Linked DNA regions of Homo sapiens: regions 1 and 2 are each reported to be linked to region 3. The links are microRNA targets in miRTarBase. Many come from high-throughput screens and were not tested one by one. Region 3 holds a microRNA gene; each other region holds the end of a gene's coding sequence.

Region 1 (4,221 bases), not on the chromosome of region 3:
TAGTCTTGAGTTTCTAAGAGGGTTCTTTATGTTATACCAGGTAAGTGTATAAAAGAGATTAAGTGCTTTTTTTTCATCACTTGATTATTTTCTTTAAAATCAGCTATTACAGGATATTTTTTTATTTTATACATGCTGTTTTTTAATTAAAATATAATCACTGAAGTTTACTAATTTGATTTTATAAGGTTTGTAGCATTACAGAATAACTAAACTGGGATTTATAAACCAGCTGTGATTAACAATGTAAAGTATTAATTATTGAACTTTGAACCAGATTTTTAGGAAAATTATGTTCTTTTTCCCCCTTTATGGTCTTAACTAATTTGAATCCTTCAAGAAGGATTTTTCCATACTATTTTTTAAGATAGAAGATAATTTGTGGGCAGGGGTGGAGGATGCATGTATGATACTCCATAAATTCAACATTCTTTACTATAGGTAATGAATGATTATAAACAAGATGCATCTTAGATAGTATTAATATACTGAGCCTTGGATTATATATTTAATATAGGACCTATTTTGAATATTCAGTTAATCATATGGTTCCTAGCTTACAAGGGCTAGATCTAAGATTATTCCCATGAGAAATGTTGAATTTATGAAGAATAGATTTTAAGGCTTTGAAAATGGTTAATTTCTCAAAAACATCAATGTCCAAACATCTACCTTTTTTCATAGGAGTAGACACTAGCAAGCTGGACAAACTATCACAAAAGTATTTGTCACACATAACCTGTGGTCTGTTGCTGATTAATACAGTACTTTTTCTTGTGTGATTCTTAACATTATAGCACAAGTATTATCTCAGTGGATTATCCGGAATAACATCTGAAAGATGGGTTCATCTATGTTTGTGTTTGCTCTTTAAACTATTGTTTCTCCTATCCCAAGTTCGCTTTGCATCTATCAGTAAATAAAATTCTTCAGCTGCCTTATTAGGAGTGCTATGAGGGTAACACCTGTTCTGCTTTTCATCTTGTATTTAGTTGACTGTATTATTTGATTTCGGATTGAATGAATGTAAATAGAAATTAAATGCAAATTTGAATGAACATAAATAGAAGTGATTTATTTTTTTATTATCTTAAAGATAGGAAGGAATTAGTATACGTATCAGGTGTATAAATGGTTTAAATTTATTTTAACATGTCAGATGTGTTCAAGTTGTCATATAAATAAACTATGTATGTAAGGAATGGGTTAAAAGCTGTTCTGCTGAGAAACTGAAGCTATTTAAGTATATAACAAGTTTTAGTATTGATTTTTAAGTTAGATGTTACACATCTTTGATTTTCAAGTTATGTCAGATAGTAGATATGAATTGTTTACTTAAAAAAATACATGTAACAATCTACGTGAAAGCTAGCTTCATAAAAAACTCTAGGAAGACCTTCTTGTGCTAACAATCAACAATCTGTTCAGCTACACTTGGTCAGCTACATTTGATAATTTGATATGTATGCACAAAATAACGTAGTGAACAAATGTGTTTTAACTAATGTCTCAATATATCTAGTGTAAGCTGGGTATTTTGCATTAACCACTTCTTTTCTGTGAGGTAATTATACCACACTTGCCAAGGGGATTTCTCTACAGAAGCTCTCAAACTGATCTTACCTTGCTATACAACATAGTAGCCTATCAATACTGGTAAAACAATCTTTTAGAAGCCATGATCTGAATTCACAGAGTAAATGAGTTTCTGAATCTACATTACCTGTTTTTGAGGTGAAGGAATAGAGGGATGGAAGAAATGCTTCCAGTTCATCAGCATTTTTATTGGATGGCATAGCTCCATTAGATTTTCTCCCTTTTCAATTTATAGGTAAACTGCATTCCAAAAAAAAACCCCACCATGCACCTCCTTGGTTATGTAATCACATTCATTAAGAAACAGTGCTGTCTGAATAGTTACAGAGTAAGCAAATGTATTAAATAGGTATTCTAATAGGGCTGAAGTAAAATGCTATTCTTGTATTTGAACAGGAAGTCATCTTGGCTATCCTTCACAGCCGAATTGTAATCCCACATTGCTTTTCTCACCCATCCTCTGCCGTATACCTAAATAATACAACTATTAGCATCACCACAAAGCCATTTAAATAATATTTGTAGTGGGTCTCAAAGTAGATAACAGAGTAAAATATACTGTAATTGAATATAGTTGTACTTACAACCTGGTAGTATTTACCTGGAGAGAAAAAAATGGTACAGGCTTCCTAATGTTTGTTTGTCAATTTGGATGGCTGTACAGTCATGGAAGTGCCTTCTATAACCAGTTGGTCAGTTTGCTAAACTAAACAATTCATTTGCTAGTTTAGCTTTTGTCTTATCAGTACAGCAAATCTGTTTTCTACCTCTGCTTCCTAAGTTCTTTCTACCACCTTTTCCTCGACTACAAACTGATAGATGTACTCTAAACTTGGATATAAGCACTAGCAGCCCTTCAGACATGTTTTAGATTTCAGATTCCTCCTTAGAGGTAACAAGGGGAGAAAGTGCTTCATTCTCTTTTCTAGCACCCTGCACAAATACCTAGAGGCGAACAAACCACACTATCAAAACCTCATGACCACCTCTCAGTGCGAGCTTCAATCTTCCAATTGATGGTGATTCAAGCATAAAATTCCAAAACTTTTATGGAGAAGACTAATTATAAGGGCAATTTTTTATAAGATTTTAGGGCATCTGTCTTGAAACTTTTTTCTTTTAAATAGAGATGGGATGTTGCCCAGGCTGGTCTTGAACTCCTGGGTTCAAGCAGTCCTCCTGCCTCTGCCTCCCAAAGTGCTGGGATTACAGGTGTGAGCCACCATGCCTGGCCATTTGTCTTGTTTTCTATACTATTCAAATCATCAAGTAAGCCAGCTGTTTATAATCCACATGAATTATTTTAATAGTTACTTCGAGATACTCCATGGTACTATACAAAAAGCATGATCATGAACATTAAAGCTGATGGCAGGAAGAATTTATGACGTCCAGAGACAAAATGAATTTAAATCATTTATTTTCACTTATTACTAATCTTACTACAGAGAATAATACAATACTATAATGTATCATCCTCAGTAAATTAATCTTCACTTAGAAAATGTTACTGATAAAATACAACATTTAGAATTTTCATTTAAAAATACAAATTTTATGAAAATATTAAGAATTTTTAGGATGGGAATTATAAAAGTCAATGCTGAACAAAATTCTACTTTTAGATAGTATGTATCTTAAAATATTATGAAAAATATTCTTTATTCTGAAAACAATGTCAGGAAAGAATACCTGAGTTCTCTAAAACCACTAGTTCTAATTTCAAATTGCTGTTTTGGTAACATAAAGAAAACACATTTACAATTTAACACTGCAGTTACCTGTCAAATAATTAGAATAGAATAAATGTTGCATATACATTAGGTTGAACATTATATATATTTTAAAACACAGGGTGGTTTCATTTAATCTTTTGGTGAATTGGATCATAAGTCCTACATTCTAAAACCATCTGGAAACATTTTTCTGGTAGCCCTGAAAATCCATTCTGATGCCTTATCAGTAGTCATTATGACCAAATGACATTAGTATTTTGTGGCCTTGATAGTTTATACAACTTAATATATTTGAAGGTGTGATGAAGTGGCTCCATCCTTCCATTTGTTTATATGGTCTGAAATCACAGTTCTGCAGAGTGGACATGTTTTCTCTCTGTTAAACCATAAGGTCATGCACTCTTCACAAAATATATGCTGTAATGGAATTAAGAATTAGATTTGATATTTGATAATCATTTTAAATCCATCACATTGTAGGGAATGAAAGGGATTCTTTTTTTTTTTTTTTTGAGATGGAGACTGAAGTCTTGCTCTGTCACCCAGGCCGGAGTGCAATGGCACCATCTCGGCTCACTGCAACCTCCGCCCCCGACTGGTTCAAGTGATTCTCCTGCCTCAGCCTCCCAAGTTGCCGGGATTACAGGTGACCACCACCACCATGCCCAGCTAGTTTTTTTATTTTTAGTAGAGACAGGGTTTCACCATGTTGGTCAGGCTGGTCTTGAACTCCTGACCTCAGGTGATCCACCCACCTCAGCCTCCCAAAGTTCTGGGATTACAGGCGTGAGCCACTGTGTCCAGCCTGAAAGGGATTTTGAAGAGCACTAATCCCCTCATTTTACAATTGTGAAAATGGAGAACGTATGAGACATTCAAGAAGACAAAG
Region 2 (4,206 bases), not on the chromosome of region 3:
GGTTGGGGCTGAGCTGGTTGGGGCACACGCCCGGGTGGCTCCCCAGCCCTGGCAGCAAGCCAGCCCCCGAGGTCAGCCGGAGGAGGAGCAGGAGCGGCAGGAGTGGACGTAGGGCGGGCATGAGGGCCGCCGAGCCAGGGGGCCGGGGGGTGTGGCCACCAGCCCCTCCTCGGGCTCCACAGAGCCCAGCTTCCTGCAGGCATCCACCCTCCGGGCCTGTGGTCGGTGCCCCCACCAGGACCCCGGGGCTCCCTTTTGCCCCTGAGGCTGAAGCCTGCAGCAGATGCTTGTCCTGACACCCCTGCTGGGTGGGTAACGGGGTCTCCAAGTTCTCAGAGGCCGTCTGTGTGACGCTGGTTCCTCTCCAGCTTCAGCCTGGCCCCTCTGTCTGAACCGTGCGGGGGCTCCCAGGCCCTGGTCAGCACAGGGCAGAGGGGAGGAGGTTGGGGAGGGGCCAGAGGCCCATGAGCACAGAGCCACTGGCCATGAGGGTCACCGGGGCGGGGAAGGGCTGGCTCTGGCTGGAGAGGGGGAGGGGAGGGGACCCTGTAACCTGAACCCCTTCGTCCACCCCTGGGCTGAGATCAATCTCCTTGACGACCCTCAGTAGGGTGGGGGCAGGGCCAGCAGATCCCAGCTTTTGTCCCTGGCGCCCTCTGGACCCCAGGCTCCTATGCCATGGGGGTGGCAGGCACGGGCCCTCCCCGCAGAGCGTGGCTGACCACAGCCTGGGTCCCCCGGGCCAGGTCCAGGCTGGCAACGGTCACGTGCGGCCGAGGGCTTCACTCCGCTCCGAGGTTCCTTCCCCCCTCCATGGCTGTTTCAGGGGCACAGGGGTCTGCAGGACGCCCAGCACAGCCCGGCCTCCTCTGCTCTGCTGCCCCTGTTGGAGTGGGGCCCAACCCGGCAGGACTGCATTCCCAGAGACCCCATCCCTGAAACCAGGCAGCGGGCTTGGGGCTCAGGCCTGTCCCCAAGGCGGGGCAGGTGCAGCAGGAAGAGGCCTGTGGCCACCACAAGCATAAGAACAGCCCGAAACGCTGATGCCGGAGCCTCGGCCCACGCACCGTGTAGCCCTGGACGTGGCTCCGCGTGGGATGGCACCGCCCGAGGGAAGGCCAAGTGCAAGGGCGTCTGCAGCTGAAAAGAGCAAGTGTCCCAGGGCACCAGAGCCTTGCCCTGCCCCAGCCCCCCGTCGGCGGGGCACACATCCCCAGGCTGGCTCCTCTTCGTTGGGGAGGGCAGGGGGCTGGCCTGCCTGGTGCAGCAGGACAAAAGGCTGCCTGGAATCTACCCTTCCAAACCCTCTGTGGCTCCAGATGTCTGGGGCCTCAGGGAGTGGTTCTCTTGAGACCGGATGGGAGTGTCCCCCTGACCCTGTGTCTGACCTCTGACCCAGGAGGCAGGGTAACAGGAGCCTGGTCTGGTCAGAATGAGACCCGGAGACGGCTCCAGGCGCCAGTCCCTGCTCTACAAGGAGACTGGGGGTGGGCCCTGATAGCGTGGGGGTGGGGGTAGCTAGGCCAGACCCAGCAGCAGGCGGCTGGGCTGGAGCTGCCAGGGAGGGGCTTAAGGCCCGGACATGCCCACGAAACAGCACAGGGAGGCACCTGAGCCAGAGGCTGTGGTCTGGTCCCTGTACCAACTGGAGTGCCCCGTTCCAGCTCAGCTGTGACCTCCGGGGCGTCCACACCCCCCTGGGCCGGGCATAGCAGACACCAGATTGGCCAGCGTGCAGGCGGCTCTGCTGAGCGGGCCGACTGACTGGAGGACCTGGCCCTCTGGAGTCCTGCTGCTGTTGGGGACAGTCCGCCCCAGGCCATCTGCTGCCGGGGACTGTGAGCGAGGGCTCAGCACAGCCCAGCTGGGATTCCATCCACCGGGAAGAGGAGAATGGCCGTGACCAGGCCCAGCTGCTCCAGCCCAGCTCCAGCCCTCACTTTGAGGCGAACCCAGCCAACCGCGGCAGGTCAGCCCGGTCAGCGCAGGGAACAGCAGGCAAAACAAAGGCCAGAGGTCAGTTTGCCGGGTATGAAGCAGCACTGGCCCCTGGCACGGGGCACCGCCACTGCCAGACCCACCCCACCAGACACAGCAAAACGTGGGGACCACAGCTGAATTACATTTACTGTACAAAGAACGGTTCGGAGAGAACCAGGAATGGCGGAGTGTCTAACAGCAGCGCGGGTAGTGTTGATGCCGTGAATGCAGGACCATCCAGGTCCTCAAAGTCTGTGAGGTTTGTTCATAATCCCAAACAAGGGCCCTGCTGGCAGCAACAGGACAGGTGGGGCCAGGACAGGGAAGCTGGAGCAGGAGGCCAGTGTCTTTGGGGGCTGTGGCAGGGCCGCCTGCCTGGGGTTCCCTTACTCATCTGGTAGTTCATGCAGGCCACGGCCCTCATCTCCCAGGAACGGGCCATGGGGCGAGTCCACTGGTGCCCAGTAACACCCTCCGTGGGACCACCTTGGGAAGCATGTGCCGCGGAGTCCACCACGGGGGGTCCTGGGTCCCGGGAGGGCTCCTTCTGCGTGCTGGCCATGTCGTGCCGCACGGCCTGAGGACAGGAGGTAGAGGTGAGCACCAGTGCTGTGGGCAGGCCCAGGCGATGGTGACCGTGCAGAGGGGCTGCTGGGGCAGGCATGGGCAGAAGCACTGGGTGGAGGAGCGGCCAATGGCTTCAGGAGAGAGGTGGCCGGCCCTGCGTGCCTGGGGCTCAGCATGAGCGCCGGGCTGGTGGGCCTTTGAGGAGGGGCCTAGCCTCCCGAGGCCCCCAGGTGGACGTGGACGTGGACGAGGTGGTTCCAGGCACGTCCCTAAGAAGGTCAGGATGGTTCTGATGCCGTGCAACCTCACAGGAGAGCTGCAGCTGTGGGGACCCCAGGGCCAGCGACAGAAGCTGCCGAGAACAGGAGGCTGCACGCAGGTGCCCGGGGTCTGCACCGCTGCCCATCAAGTATTCCTAAGTCTACAGATAGCTCTGCACTCTCCAGGGTGGGCGAGATGATCTGAGTTTTGAGTGGTCAATGTCCCCGAAGGTGTCACATCACAGCAGGAAGGTTCTCATCCCCACGTGGGGAGGGATTTGGGGAGCAACAAAAATGTGGGCTGCCAGGTGCACCTCCTTTCTCCCCTCTCCTGAGTGCTGCTTGGGCTCTGACCACAGGACCACACCCTCCATCCCGTGGGAGCCAGGGCCCCGGTCACCCAAGCTTCCAGAGGGAGCACCGGCCCTGTCTGCTCCCCCGGCCTCTGGGCAGCCCCGCCACTCGCAGCGCATGAATTCACAGGATGCCTTGCCATCGCGGCCGCGAGTCCCCTCTCGAGGAGTCCCAAGTGCGTCCCCGCAGCTGGCGTGGCCATGAAGTCACCAGTGCACCACCACCGGGCCACACCCAGGCTTCCCTGAAGGCCCCTTAAAAATGTACAAAAAAGTGAAGTGTTCTCTATATAAATAAGAAAGGCCAACCAGGCTCCCCGCCGGTCAAGCCCAGGCAGCTGGGGAGGCCCGGCTTGTTTCCGACCAAGATTCCCGGAAGCACCAGCAGCCCAGCCGCGCCCCCTCCTCCCGCCTGCCGCGCTTGGTCCGTGCATGCTCCTCCTCGCACCCGGCTCAGGTGTGAGGAAAGCCCGGCGCTTCTGAGGCAGCTGTGTGGACAGTCTCCACGTAGGCGGCACTGGCCTGGCGTCCAGCCAGGAGTGTCCAGCTCGAGCCCTCCTGGCATCTGCACAGGCGGCCCCGCCCATCCCCGCTAGGAGATCTTGCAGTTACTCCGCGAGCAGTTCTGGGGGGGGCTCTGGGGTGGACGGATGGACTTGGACCTCTTGAGGCTGTTGCCCTTGCTGCCGCCGCCCCCGGCCCCGCTGGCCAGGGAGTAGGAACGGCCGTGCATCATGACCGCGTTCATGCCGTTGGCCATCGAGAAGGACTTGAGGTGGCTCTTGATGGTGACGGGCAGTGGAAGCTTGTCGATGAGGTGCACGGGGGTGCAGGAGACGATGGCCCGGCAGCAGAGGTCCTGCAGGCTGAACACTGTGGGGCAGAGGGGGTGTCAGACCATGGGGCTGTGGGGGAGGAGGCCCTGTGCAGGGAGACCTGAGGTGCCCAAGAGAAGCCTGGCGGGGTCTCCACACTCCTAGAGGTGTTCCCAGGCTGGGCTCCTGGAGGACCTGGACGCCCAAACTTCTCTGCCCAGCACAGATGTG
Region 3 (4,221 bases):
AGAAGCAAGCTTGAATTTCCTATAAATTTGTTTGAAAGGACAACCTTCATATTCCATATTACACAGTCTTAAACTTCTTAGGCTTTGTTCATCAAAAGCCATTATGTCATACGCACTGCATGTGAAACAGATGATTTAGAATAGCAATGTTGGAGAAGAGGTTTTATCTGTTACTTCCTGGTCTTGAAGACATGGCTCTCTCTAAAACAGTATTGAAAATATCCGTCTATATTACTTGAGAACTTCTTCACCAAAAGATGAAACCTCCTTGCAGCTAGCAGACTGAATGGAAAAGTAGACCTCTAGCATTATTGGAGATAAAGAGTCAACCATCAGTTCAATACCACGCTGATTTAAAAGCCAACATGCGCTATTGTCTGAGAATAAATCGGAAAAGACATTTCCTCTACTGATACTTCAAAGACTTTGTAACATCTGGAATCTGGTTCTATACAGGGTATTCCACTAAGAAGTAAGAATAAAAGGATTTTAATAAGGCAAATAAGATTCAGGTTTCTTAAAATATGTTCTCCCTGGAGGGAAACAAATAACACATTGCATCTGACTAACCTTTCTGCACTTCAGCTGCATTAATTCACATTTAGTCATGGATTCCATCATGAGCCAGATGAACTTAGTGCCACAGCTGTTTTCATCGAGGGGAAAATATGCTTTTCCATTTTAGATTCCCAGCATTTAATATAAATATAGGAAAAATACATTTTATTGACTGCATTATTGATAAGAACTCCACATTACTTACCCAAATAAATTCACATCCACCCTAGACTGTGATCAAATCAATATCAATATTACACAAACGGTCAACCGGAGCCAGATTCCTACCTCCCTTTTTCTTACATTGAGGGATAAGGAAAAGTTGAAGAATTGATCAAAGAGGTAGACAACATGGCCTTGGAGGAATTGTTGCTGGGTTAGTCAAAGACTTTAGTGGAGATCAGGTTCACTAAGAGGAATGAATACAGATGACTAGGAAAAACGAAAGGATGTTTCAAAAGTTTAACTGAGGGATTTGATGTCTTGGCAGAGCTGTCCTCAGCTCTACCAGCAAAACATGTGGAAGTGGTTGGTTGGGAGCAAAGCTGAGGTACAGAACTGTAATACTTGGTCAGTATTACAAGTATTAAGTAGTAAGAGTTGTTTTTTTTTGTTTGTTTGTTTTTTGTTTTTTTTTTTGTTTTTTGCAAAACCTCCTTGAAGATACAATTTTGTGAGGAAATATGTCAGTGATTCCACTGGGCAAAGCATTCAACCTATAACCCCTTGTCAAATTTCACATCACAAGAGCGCTGTAAAATCAAATTCATCTCCAATAGTCCTGAACAAATACTGTATCATGACTTGTGGTCAACTATGGAGTCTCATGGACAAATGAAAATCCAGTAGTTATGTGGTCAGAGTATGTGTGTGTGAGTGCATTCATTTGTACTAGTATATAAACCTGCAGTCATTATCTGCGTCAACACTAACCAAGCCTCAAATTAAGGTTCTCAGTCATGATTCAAAAAAGAATGAAACCTGTCTGACCCATCTTCACCTTTACCAACACAGGATGACAATAATTTAATCAGACTAGGAAAATATCTTACCTGGAACTACTTCAAAAAGGAACTTCCCTGGGTTCTCTTCATTGCAGGGATGCTCAGAAACTTTATTTCCAGGCAGAAAAATAGTACCCTGTGAAAACAAATACCCAAAACATCAACATCATCAGAGAGCAAACATCATATATCATCATTATAATCAGTGAATATCCAAGGTGTAGCTATAACCCAGTATACAGTAAGATGCATCAGAATCTTTTATATTCCCAATAATCAAAAATTATGTGCCAGAATCATGTTCACTCAAGATTTAACGAATACTTGTTGAGCATCTAATATGTATAAGACTAATATGTATGTTAGCTGCTAGATTCATCTTAAGCACCAATTTATTAAACACATTCTGTGTGCCAGAAATTTTACTAAGCATTCTACCCGCACCATATTATTTAATTGGTAGTATAATCTTATGAGGTAGATATTCTTTTCCCCATTTTATAGCTGTGAAAACAAGGTAGACTTAGACATAGTTGTGATAAGCCTTCTCTTGATTATCTCTTCTCTCTTCTCTTTCTTTCCTTTTCTTTCTTTTCCTTTTCTTTTTTTTTTTTGTTTGTTTTTTGAGATGGAGTTTTGCTCTTGTCACCCAGGTGGGATTGTAATGGCATGATCTTGGCTCGCTGCAACCTCTGCCTTCCGGGTTCAAGAATTCCACTGCCTCAGCCTCCTGAGTAGCTGGGATTACAGGCATCTGCCAGCACACCCGGCCAATTTTTGTATTTTCAGTAGAGATGGGGTTTCACCATGTTGGCCAGGCTAGTCTCGAACTCCTGACCTTAGGTGATCCACCTGCCTCGGCTTCCCAAAATGCTGGGATTACAGGCATGAGCCACCACGCCCAGCTATCCTTTCTCTATCTTTAAATTTCTCTCTTTAGTGGATCATTTCATTCAGTGCTGAGATATACTTAAAAGTCTGTGTCATTAAAAAAAGTACTTTGACTTCCCGCTATTCTATTTTTTTGTTTGCCTACTGTCTATACTGAATCTATTTCTTCACTGTACCCACTGCAGCCTGGTTGATGCACCCAGCATTCCACTTACATGACTCACAAGCTGCGTGTTTGATAATGTTCACTTTTCAGTGACTTGACTTTCTAGAAGTGTTCATCACTATTGACCACTCTTTCCTTGAAGCACCTTCTTTCCTTTGTTTCTTTGTTTTCTCTAGGTTTTTCCCTAATTTCTCTGTTGTCTGAATGTCTTTTGCTGACTCTAATTGACCTTTAAATATTAGAGTTTTTAAAAAGATTTATCCAATAATTTCTTCTCTTCTGACTCTAGTACTCTCTTTCTCCAGGCTATCTCATCCAGGCCTATGATTTCAATAACCAACTGTAAGCCAATGAATATCGGAGTAATATTTCTAATCTAGGACACTCTGAGCTTCAGATACATTCAAAAGCTTATTTGACATTTCCACTTATCTCAAAGATGTCTTAAACTCAACTTAGTCAAATTAAAATGCAAGTAAATCTGGCTCTCATTATGTATTCCCCAGCTCAGTGACTGTCACCCTCTTCTATGCAGTTGCAAAAGCCAGAAATATAGAAATCATTATCTCTACTATGTATCTCTACTACTACCACTCTCTAATTTCAGGCAACTATTATCTCTTGTCTGAAATTTTTCAAATGCCTCTTCACTGAATTCTCCAGAATATTCTGACATCTTTCTTTTATTATTATTATTATTATTATACTTTAAGTTCTAGGGTACATGTGCACAACGTGCAGGTTTGTTACATATGTATACATGTGCCATGTTGGTGTGCTGCACCCATTAACTTGTCATTTACATTAGGTATATCTCCTAATGCTATCCCTCCCCCATCCCCCCACCCCACAACAGGCCCCGGTGGGTGATGTCCCCCTTCCTGTGTCCAAGTGTTCTCACTGTTCAATTCCCAGCTATGAGTGAGAACATGCGATGTTTGGTTTTTTTGTTTCTGCTCTTACACTTTTTTGCTTTCTATGGCTTTCTATCATCCAGCAACTACCCTTCTATAAATGGCAGCATGCTCCCATCTACCTTAGGACAACATTCTTTCCCTGGCAATTTTATACCATTTTTAAGATTGTCTACATCTAAAATATACTTGCATAGATTCTTGAATTTTTCCTGGACTGATTTACCATTGTATGTAGTTATGTTATTTGTAAGATGAATTGATTAAAGTCCATCTCCCTCGTTAAACTGTAAGGGAAAAATAATATGTGTTTTGCTCCCTAATTTACTACCAATGCCAAGCATTTTGCCTGGCATATAGTTAACGGCTAAAAATGTGTATTGTTGAGTGAATGGGAACTGTTAACATAATGAAGCCAGTGTTAAAAACTAAGTGTGCTGAACTCAAAAGCCCATGCTCCTGTCCACTGTATTATATTGTCCATTTTTCCCAGCTCAAAAAATAGTAATATTTAGCTAAAGTAGTATTTTACTCAATTTTCAACCTACTTGGTTTGGCACAGAAAATTATAGTCCTCAGCCATTTCCCTCCTTCTGGGCTTAGACTGATAAAGCATAGCGCTCTCCAACCAAAACCCAAGAAATTGTATGTTAGAAGTATTCCTCTCCCCCCATGCCTTACAAGGTGA

What was found. Region 3 holds the annotated microRNA hsa-miR-4451 (UGGUAGAGCUGAGGACA, at 1,052-1,068, opposite strand). A microRNA usually pairs through its seed, bases 2 to 8, with sites in the 3' UTR of a target mRNA and lowers its output. Matches are read on the target gene's strand: a 7mer-m8 pairs with bases 2 to 8, a 7mer-A1 pairs with bases 2 to 7 and ends in A, and an 8mer does both.
Region 1: the mRNA of RNFT1 is a reported target of hsa-miR-4451. The part of its 3' UTR that is shown has no 7-base or 8-base seed match.
Region 2: the mRNA of RAB40C is a reported target of hsa-miR-4451. Seed matches in the 3' UTR shown: 7mer-m8 at 2,570-2,576.

Annotation. Positions count from the first base shown.
Region 1 is chr17:59,949,363-59,953,583 of GRCh38, forward strand. It overlaps RNFT1 (ring finger protein, transmembrane 1), which reads right to left. Exons shown (of 9, transcript NM_016125.4): 9 at 2,878-3,749. The coding sequence ends at 3,615. RPS6KB1 (ribosomal protein S6 kinase B1) reads left to right here. Exons shown (of 15, transcript NM_003161.4): 15 at 1-1,212. Among named protein-coding and RNA genes, the nearest start is that of RNFT1, 13 kb to the right of the region's middle.
Region 2 is chr16:627,169-631,374 of GRCh38, reverse strand. RAB40C (RAB40C, member RAS oncogene family) reads right to left here. Exons shown (of 6, transcript NM_021168.5): 6 at 2,107-4,033. The coding sequence ends at 3,753. WFIKKN1 (WAP, follistatin/kazal, immunoglobulin, kunitz and netrin domain containing 1) reads right to left here and starts at 390. Exons shown (of 2, transcript NM_053284.3): 1 at 1-390. The coding sequence starts at 121. RefSeq lists enhancers at 297-1,031, 1,212-1,506, 1,032-1,765, 3,235-3,968 and a silencer at 3,598-3,848.
Region 3 is chr4:85,719,362-85,723,582 of GRCh38, reverse strand. MIR4451 (microRNA 4451) reads right to left here and starts at 1,115; the gene lies at 1,050-1,115. ARHGAP24 (Rho GTPase activating protein 24) reads right to left here. Exons shown (of 10, transcript NM_001025616.3): 3 at 1,611-1,698. It overlaps LOC124900728 (a long non-coding RNA gene), which reads right to left and starts at 1,593. Exons shown (of 2, transcript XR_007058169.1): 1 at 571-1,593; 2 at 1-465.